Linked DNA regions of Homo sapiens: region 2 is linked to region 1. The links come from fine-mapping of genetic effects on gene expression. A gene starts in region 1. The other region holds a variant in brackets. All regions are shown on one strand. Distances are from middle to middle.

The links. PIP is the estimated chance that this variant, and not a neighbour inherited with it, causes the effect. A credible set is the group of variants that fine-mapping cannot tell apart.
Region 2: its variant is the best candidate, but not a certain one, in a credible set for the expression of ITPR1 in lung (GTEx, PIP 0.53).

Annotation. Positions count from the first base shown.
Region 1 is chr3:4,491,182-4,495,415 of GRCh38, forward strand. It overlaps ITPR1 (inositol 1,4,5-trisphosphate receptor type 1), which reads left to right and starts at 2,167. Exons shown (of 62, transcript NM_001378452.1): 1 at 2,167-2,424; 2 at 3,250-3,325. It overlaps ITPR1-DT (ITPR1 divergent transcript), which reads right to left and starts at 1,982. Exons shown (of 2, transcript NR_108075.1): 1 at 1,603-1,982; 2 at 1-187. RefSeq lists silencers at 2,236-2,505, 3,804-4,098.
Region 2 is chr3:4,551,455-4,555,734 of GRCh38, forward strand. The region is part of intron 4 of ITPR1 (inositol 1,4,5-trisphosphate receptor type 1); the gene reads left to right. Among named protein-coding and RNA genes, the nearest start is that of ITPR1, 60 kb to the left of the region's middle. The variant G/A (reference allele first, on the strand shown) is at 1,744.

The DNA of each region.
Region 1 (4,234 bases):
ATTTGCTTGAAAAGTAGAGCCGAAGATCCTTTGAAAATGGAAGAGGTTTTCATGGGGGAAGAGATGAGTGGGGGCGAATGAGAAACATCTCCTTTATATGGCAGATGCGGCAGTTTCTTGATGATGGGGAGAAGCAGCTTAACGTATTAGGCACTAGACCCCAGCGTCCAGTGACCAGGGGATAATGCTGACAGGGAACGGAGGGCAGGAGTGAATATCGTGAACACAAACTTTGTCTATTTCAAGAGCTTTGCCCCTTCCTGGACTGACATTAAATGCTTATCTGAGCAGGCAAATACAGTGCACATGTTTACATTGGGGAGGTAGCGGAGACTAGTAGTTTAGGACCAGGGTTCAAGACTCAGCTATTTGTGTGACTTTGGAGGAAGTAATTTAATCGCTTTGTGCCCCCCCTCAGTTTTCTCATAAGTAAAAAATGGCTTAATAGGATTTAATTAGGTGCTATACAGAAAGAGTTTAGACCAATGCCTGACACATGGCATTCACCCAATAAGTGTCAATAATTATGATTCGTTTTGGCATTATTATGTCAGTAATAACTATTAGCTATGATTCTCCTCTAATTTGTTCCTAAAGTTTCATGAGACTCGATTTTATATTAAGGAATCCTGCTAAAAAGTAGACATATTCTAATAAGAATTTCCTTCAGATGGCAAAACTGGGGCAAAGAGATGAAAATGACTTGCCCAAGGGCTCAGAGGCTGCTCCTAAATGGGGAGAGAGGCTATTTAAGGCAATGGCGGTGGATTTCCCCAAAGACAAGGGTTTCATACACGTAGAGTCTGGAACGGGAGTCCAGGCTGTACCACTTAACTCGAGGGGTCATTTGGGAAGTTACCTGATTTCTCTGAGCCCTGGATTGTGCACCTGCCAAATAGATATAATAAATATACCTACAGTTGGTAAAACTCAATAGCATGACGCATGAAAACTGCATGTGGTCTGGGCTCAATAAAATCAGCCTCCCCATTGATTATTATCATTATTATTACTATTGTTATAACAGATCTTTAGGCGGCGTCAGGAAGTGCCTGTCTGGGATGCTATAATGCGTTTGGCTCACCACTATGCCCCAGCGCCTGGCACCTAGTAAACACTCAGGAAACGTTTGAGGAATGAATATACGTCATTTGAGGCAAGACAGGGCAGTCGGCTGACTGCCTCCGGGCTTAGCTCTTCCCCTCCTTGCAAAAGCCGGAGCCCTAAGCAGCGTGTAGCCCGGGAGCCCAGGCATTACTTGGCAGCGGGTGAAACCCACCTTGCCCCATTCGGAGCTCTTGGAGAGCGCCCCGCCTGGATGCGCATCTCTGTGTGAGCGGCTCTTTCCTAAGCCCTTATTTTTCTGGTTTGCGGTTTATTTACTTAAGCATTTACAGCTCCCAGGAGCAGAGGGGCTGCTAGAGGTACGGTCAGGACTGAGGTCGCGGTTTGTATTTATTTTCTGCCTCCCAATCTCAGAGCCGGCAAGTCACAACACGGCTCCTTTATTTGTGCACCGGAGAGGTCTGCCTTTCTTTACCTCCTCACGGGCGATAAAAGACAAGCAACTCGGGCTCAGAAAAGTGCTCTCACGCGACTTGCCTGTGTCTCCGCTTGCGTGGACCGTCGCTCCCAGGCTTGGTTTCTCGTGCAAACCCGAGCAGGGCGGAGCAGATTAAATAAAGACACCTCGCGCCTTTAATCCTTGACCGCAAACACTGGCGTTTTTGTGCCCCGGATTTCTGAAATTCTTGGCTCGGGGAACCAAGGCAGGGGGAGGGTGGGCTTGTAAAAACTTCCCAAAGCAGAAATCCGAGCTCCTAGCCCCTCCCCGGCCCCAGTGACACCTGGATTCCAGGGAAGGGGGGCAGCCGGAGGAGAGGCGTCCCCAAGGGTTGCGGGCGCTTCCCAGGGGTGACTTTGAACGGCTGGCTCCAAGCCCTACCGACCCCAGCCAAGGAACAGGCTCAGCAGCCTGAAAGCCTCGCAGGACGCCCCTCCCCTGTCCCCGCACGCGTCTATTTAGGGCCCAGCCCGGGCGCCCAGGGGATTCTGGGACTTGTAGTCCCTCCCCGCAGCCTCAGGCGCCGCCACGACCCGCTACTTGGACTACATTGCCCAGGGAGCTTCCCGGCCTATATAAGCCACCCGGAGCCGCTTTAAAGTGCAGTAACCATGTGGATGTGCTGCTGAAGCGTTTCCTCAAGCTCGCTGGGGTGGGAGGAGAGGAGGAGGAGGAGGTGGTGGTGGAGGAGGAGGCAGGGGGTGGAGAGAGAGAAAGCGCACGCCGAGAGGAGGTGTGGGTGTTCCGCTTCCATCCTAACGGAACGAGCTCCCTCTTCGCGGACATGGGATTACCCAGCGGCTGCTAACCCCTCTCCTCGCCCTGCTCCCCCAAACCGGCGTGGCTCCCCGGGCACCAAGGTAGCGGCTGGGGCCGGGCAGAGGGCGCGGGGAGTTGGCACTGGCTCCCCGGGCGCAGAAGTTTTTGCCCCGCTCTCGGGGAGATCTTGATGGATGTGCATGCACTTGGCATGCATTTGGGGGTTCCTTTACTGCGGGCAGTTGTTTTGGGGGGAGCTCATTTGAAGCTTAAAAAACAAATATCCTCTACTCTAGTGCGTGGCTTTGGGGGCTCCCCATTCTGGTCTGATGTGGCATTCCCCCAAGTTGGAAACTGTTGCTGCAGCTGCAGGAAATAGTTCTTTTTTTTTTTTTTTTTTTGAAGAGAGGTTGTGGGGGTGTCATATGTGAGTCTGCTCAAGGAAATAATCTTTCTAAAAATGTATCCCTCTCTTGCGCTCCGTGGTTGGGAGAATAATGCATGTGTAGGGGCCCCCCGTGGGGAGGGTTTTTAAAAACGGAAGAAAACCGGAGAAGCGGTGAGGGATGAAGTGTGGACGAAGCTCATGTCCAATGAGGATGCGGGCTTCGGATACTTGGCCTTCTCGCCGGGAAACAAGTGCTTTGGGATCTGCCAAACACTTCCCTTAGTTCCAGCCTCCCGCACGTTCGAAGTTTGTGCGTGCCTAGTCTCAATTGTCAGTTACATCCTGGAAATAAGTAAGCGTAGTTACCTGGAATCTTCGCCCAAGCGATCCCACCAACCTGCCTACCAAGTTTGGGGGCGGGGGGGCTGTCCCCAGTGAAGGAGGCTAAAGAAGGTGGAAACTTGTAATTTGGAGCATTTCTGTTAGAGCTCATCTTCCGCGGTCTGGTACTCAGTCTTCTTTCTTTCTAAATATTTAGGAGCTGACTACAGAGGAGCAGGATTTGCACCCCTCGCTGGGCTTGCTTTGGCAACAGAGTGCCTGACCCAGGTCAGGTGAGTGTGGAAGCCTGAGTGCTGTAGTCAATAATGAGTTTTTGTCCTAAGCCTATTTTAAGTTCTATCTAAACCGCCAAGGAGGTGGGGAGTAAGAAAGAAAAAGAAACTCCGTGGCTCAGTCTTCAAAATTTGCCTCTGCCTTTGGTGAGGGCTTTTGGGAGCAGAGGTCCAGTGGACAGTCCGTTTCTTGGAAGTAGCTGAGAATTGAAGGAGCCTGAAAGTTTATGAGAGAGGAGGGGAAAAGGCCATTAAATGGAGCAATAAAACGGCGGCCCATTGCCGGTCTGAAAAGCATGCTGATGATTTAAATTCTGAAGGATACAGTGCATTTCATATGCCAAAATGTGTAAGCAGTATTAACTGCCTCTCTCCTTCAAGAAATAGTCACTCTTTTCTAATTTTGAACGTGTGCTTAATCAGAGTAGGTTGGATTGCAAGAAATGAAAGTGGTTGCTGCAAGTTGAAAGAATTAGAACTTTAAAAAGGGAAGTGAGTTATTGAAGCTTAAGGTGGTAGCATCCAGCCCTTGACTCAAGCCACCTGAGTGTCAAGGAATCTGGCAGGTCCCTGTTGTTTTGGGGCCCGTGGTGGAATATGAGCTGAGAGCAGCATTTATCTGTAAACACAACAGTTCCTATTTTTTCCCCAAAATGGTCAGACTGCATTTGAAGAGTGGGAGGTTTCAACGGGTGCACGTACATCACTATTGCTGCAGATTTGGCTATCAGGAGTTTTTTCTCCTGAAATGTTCAGGAACATGGTAAATAACAGGGTAACAGAGGTAGGTGGGGGTGGGTGGCTGGGTCTTAATAACTTTTTTAACATTCTAAATATTTAGCTGTTCCCTGGGCTACAATCTTTGGGCTTTTCTAATGAGAAAATAAAAGTCAGACACTTCATTATAGT
Region 2 (4,280 bases), 60 kb after region 1:
ATCTTTCTAATCTCTCAGCGTTGCCAAGAAGTGTCCATGCTTCTTATCTAGAGAGATTATTCCATGTTTTAATTATAAAGGGTTGAGTAGCTGTTTCAGGGCTGACGTTGGTTCTTGCTCATGAATCAAGGTCACAACAGAGCTCACCCCTGGCCTTGGCCAGGGACTTAATGTTCATTCAGCAAACATCTGCCAAACCCTCACTATATTTACAGCATGTGTTAATTGTAGTGGGCTAGATACAGATAATACTCCATGTATATAGTACTTTTAACAGTTTCTAAAGGCTTATTCTCTTATTCACATGAAGAATCTGAAATCAGAGAAGTCGGCTTAAGTTATATAGCTGGTAAGTCAACAAGCAATAGCTGCAACCAGTCGTATCTTATTTTTTGACTACATCTCTGCTGTCTGAGGCAAGGTCCCTACTCTCAAATGAGTTAACTTTTAATAGAAAAGATAATTTGATTGACTCTAACGAACATTTATTACATATGCTCTGGAGGTTCCATGTGAAACAGGCTTGTCTTTAATCTAGGTCTCAGGATAGCAGAAGTAATCCCATTTGTATTTTTATCTGTTTTGTTTAGGATGCTTATCACAGTTCTAATGCAGAAATTATTTGGATAATTCTGATTGTGGAAAAAAACAAACTCAAAGTGCTTTTTCTAGTCTCTCACTCAACAGCAGTCAACACAGATTTCTGTGACAAACGGGGTGGGGGAAATTCTCCCCATCACCAAGCAAGCAATCAATTCTGCAGCAGACAACAGCTGGGTATCTTCTATTTTAATGTTTAACTGGTGATAGTATTAGATCCCACAGATTGGAGGCTCAGCCCCCAAGAATGCCCCACCTCCCACCTGACACACCAGTCTGGGCCTCTGGAACGTCTGACTGACTGGCTTTAAGTTTGGATTCCTATGACCACCTCTTTGGGTTGGATTAATTTGCTAGAGTGGCTCACACAACTCAGGGAAGCATGTTTACCCATTTATTATAAAGGATATTACAAAGGATACAGATAACCAGAGGAGGAGATACACAGGGTGAGGTCTGGAAGGGTCTTGAGTGTAGGAGCTTCTGTTCCTATGGAGTTGGGGCCCACTATCCTCCCAGTGGGTGGATGAGTTCTTGTTCACCATCTTGTCTGCCTCCACATGTTCAGTTATCTGAAGCTGGTCCTTTTGGGTTTTTATGGAAGCTTCATTATGTAAGCATGATTGATTAAATCATTGGCCATTGGTGATCAACTTAACCTTCAGCCTCTCTTCCCTCTCCTCTTTCTGGGCTGAAAGCTGGACCCTCTAATCCTGCCTTGTTTTTTTCTGGTGACCAGCTCCATCTAGAAGCTGCCTGGGGGCTGCCAGCTACCAGTCAACTCATTAGCATGCAAAAGACATCACTTTGGCATTTCTGAGGATTTTAGGGGTTGTATGCCAGGAAACAGGGTCAAAGACCAAATATATATTTCACAATGTGACAGTAATGATTTATTTTATGCCTAACTCCGCTGCTAGATTGTGGGTAGGGACTTTCTCGTTGACCCCAGCATCCCCAACACAAAGTGAAACATCTGTCAGAAAACAGATGTGTCTTTCATCACAAAAGCATGTTGAATGAGTGCACTATAAAGAATAGATGAGGTGCTGTTTTAAAGTGCCATGGGACCACAGATGAAGTTTATTGTGGTGGGAGGTGATGTCATGAGTAGAAAAACTTACGGAGAAGGCATATTAAGCC[G/A]GGCAACAAAGGATGGGCGGGCATTAAACATGAATGGAGTGAGGGTTGGGATAGAGGGGTGGGACATTTTTCTACAGTGAATTACAGGACCAAAGACACAGATGGGCAGACTCCAGCTATGATTTTTTTGACAGATAGACAGGGTGTGTGAGGTTGAGGCTTAAGTGGTTTATTGGTACCAGATTTTGAAGTCTTTGATTGACTAAGACATTTGAAGTTTGTTCTTGCTATTGTTATTATTATTTTGTTTTGAGGGAGGGTCTTGCTGTGTCACCCAGGCTGAAGTACAGTGGTACGATTTCAGCTCAATGTAACCTCTACCTCCTGGGCTTAAGCAGTCCTCCCACCTCAGCCTCCTGAGTAGCTGGGACTACAAGCGCGTGCCACCACGCCTGGATAATTTCTTTTTTTTTTTTTTTTGAGACAGAGTCTCCTTCTTGTCGCCCAGGCTGGAGTGCAATGGCATGATCTCAGCTCACTGCAACTTCTGCCTCCCAGGTTCAAGTGATTCTCCTCCCTCAGTCTCCTGAGTAGCTGAGATTACAGGTGCCCACCACCACGCCTGGCTAATTTTTGTATTTTTAGTAGAGACGGGATTTCACCATGTTGGCCAGGATGGTCTCGAACTCCTGACCTCAGGTGATCCACCTGCCTTGGCCTCCCAAAGTGCTGGGGTTACGGGCGTGAGCCACCACGCCCAGCCTGGCTAACATTTTTTAGTTGTTTAGAGACAGGATTTTGCCATGTTGCCCAGGCTGGTCTTGAAAACTCCTGGGCTCAAGCAGTCCGCCCTCCTTGGCATCCCAAAGTGCTCGGATTACAGGTGTGAGCCACCGCGCCCAGCCTTACTACTATTATTAATTTTAAAAAGAACCTTTATTGGTATCTTACTACACTAAATGTATTATGTTCATTACTTCATTTAGCAGTGAGGGCAATCCCATCTTATTGGTGAGGAAACAGGTTCAGAGAGTTTAAGTATCTTGCCCAAGGTAACAGTCACTGAGTGGCACAGTTAGTGATGAATTCTGTTCTCTTTGATAGGAATAGAGGCCCACTGATACCTGTGAGCTTAGCAGTGTATCATTCTTTATTTTGTCAGAAATGAGTACAGTGTTTGGCACATCATAGGTGCTCCAGGTTTTAGAGAATACATTTTTTGCCGAGTCGCAGAAGGAATCAGTACTTTCCTTTAGGAAGATTAGTCTGGTAATTACGTGTATTGGCCTAGTTAGTAAATGTTTTTTGTGGGCATGAATCAATTGAATCCTTGTTTTTGATGCTGGCTATGTGCCAGGCACTGGTGTAGGTGCTGGGGACCTACGGTGGTGAGCTCACTGGTGGGTTGGGCTGGAGAGAAAGGGGTCGTAGGGTGGCAGGCAGGCTGGTTGGGAAGGAGTGACAGTGTGGCTACAGGTTACATCAACCCCCTGAGAGAGAGCAGATGGGCAGAGACTGAGGACTGAGGTTTCAGTTAACCCGGTGGTAACCTAGAATCATGATGGGGGCCAGTGACTCGAAATATCTGTCTCACTGGTCATTGGGTGGAGGATGACAACCTGCCCCTGATTTTAAAACAGCAGTTTCTTGTCTTCCTGCTTGTGGGTGGATTAATTGGGTTACATATGTTTATGAATGATAGTGTAAATACATTTCTGATGACAATCTGGGGAAAAAAGCAAAAATGGCAATAAAAGAACTGTTGCTCATATATCAATGGATAAGGCAATTATCTTCTCTAGGAGCACACAGCATTCATGTGTGGGGAATAGGGGTGAAGAAAGATTTCGTTACTGAGAGCATGATCTGGGGATGGAACTGTACCCGCGGAATGTGTTTCCATCTGTCATAGGCTGTGCTTTTGAAACAACACACCATGTTCCATAGGGCTTCTAATAAAGGATGAAGTGTTGGAGAATTCAGTGTTTTTATTTGTAGAAAGCACCAGAATCCCATAATCAAAGTCAGGGTATTTGGGGGATTGGAATCAATTAGAGGCATTACTGAATCCAGTCATCCCTGCCTCTCCTGCTTTAAGGTGAGGAAACTACCTTAGGTGTTTCCTGAGTTAGGTGACTTAGCCAAGATTGTACAGGTAGTTATTACAGAGACAGGACTAGAAACTTGGTCTTCAGAGGCAAGCGATTGCTTTTGGCAGTTTGGTGTGTATCTTTCCAGGATGTTTCCTATTCATTTGAAGGCATATAGGCGTATATTAAAACATACATTTTTATGAATTTTCTTAAACCCGTAATTATTATTCTGCAATTTGGTTTTTTCACCTGACTCCTTTCTTAACCCATTTTTTGTTAATGTCAATAGCAAAATAATAAATAAACCATGGTATATCCAGGCAATGGAATATTACTCAGTGCTAAAAATAAGTGGGTTATGAAGCCATGAAAAGACATGGAGGAAACTTACTAATCTACAATCTAGTTTTTTTCAGCATTTGAGGATTATTCCATAGTATGGATGTGCCAGAGTGTAATCAGCCATTCTCTGAGTGATAAAAATTCAAACTATTTATTTTTTAC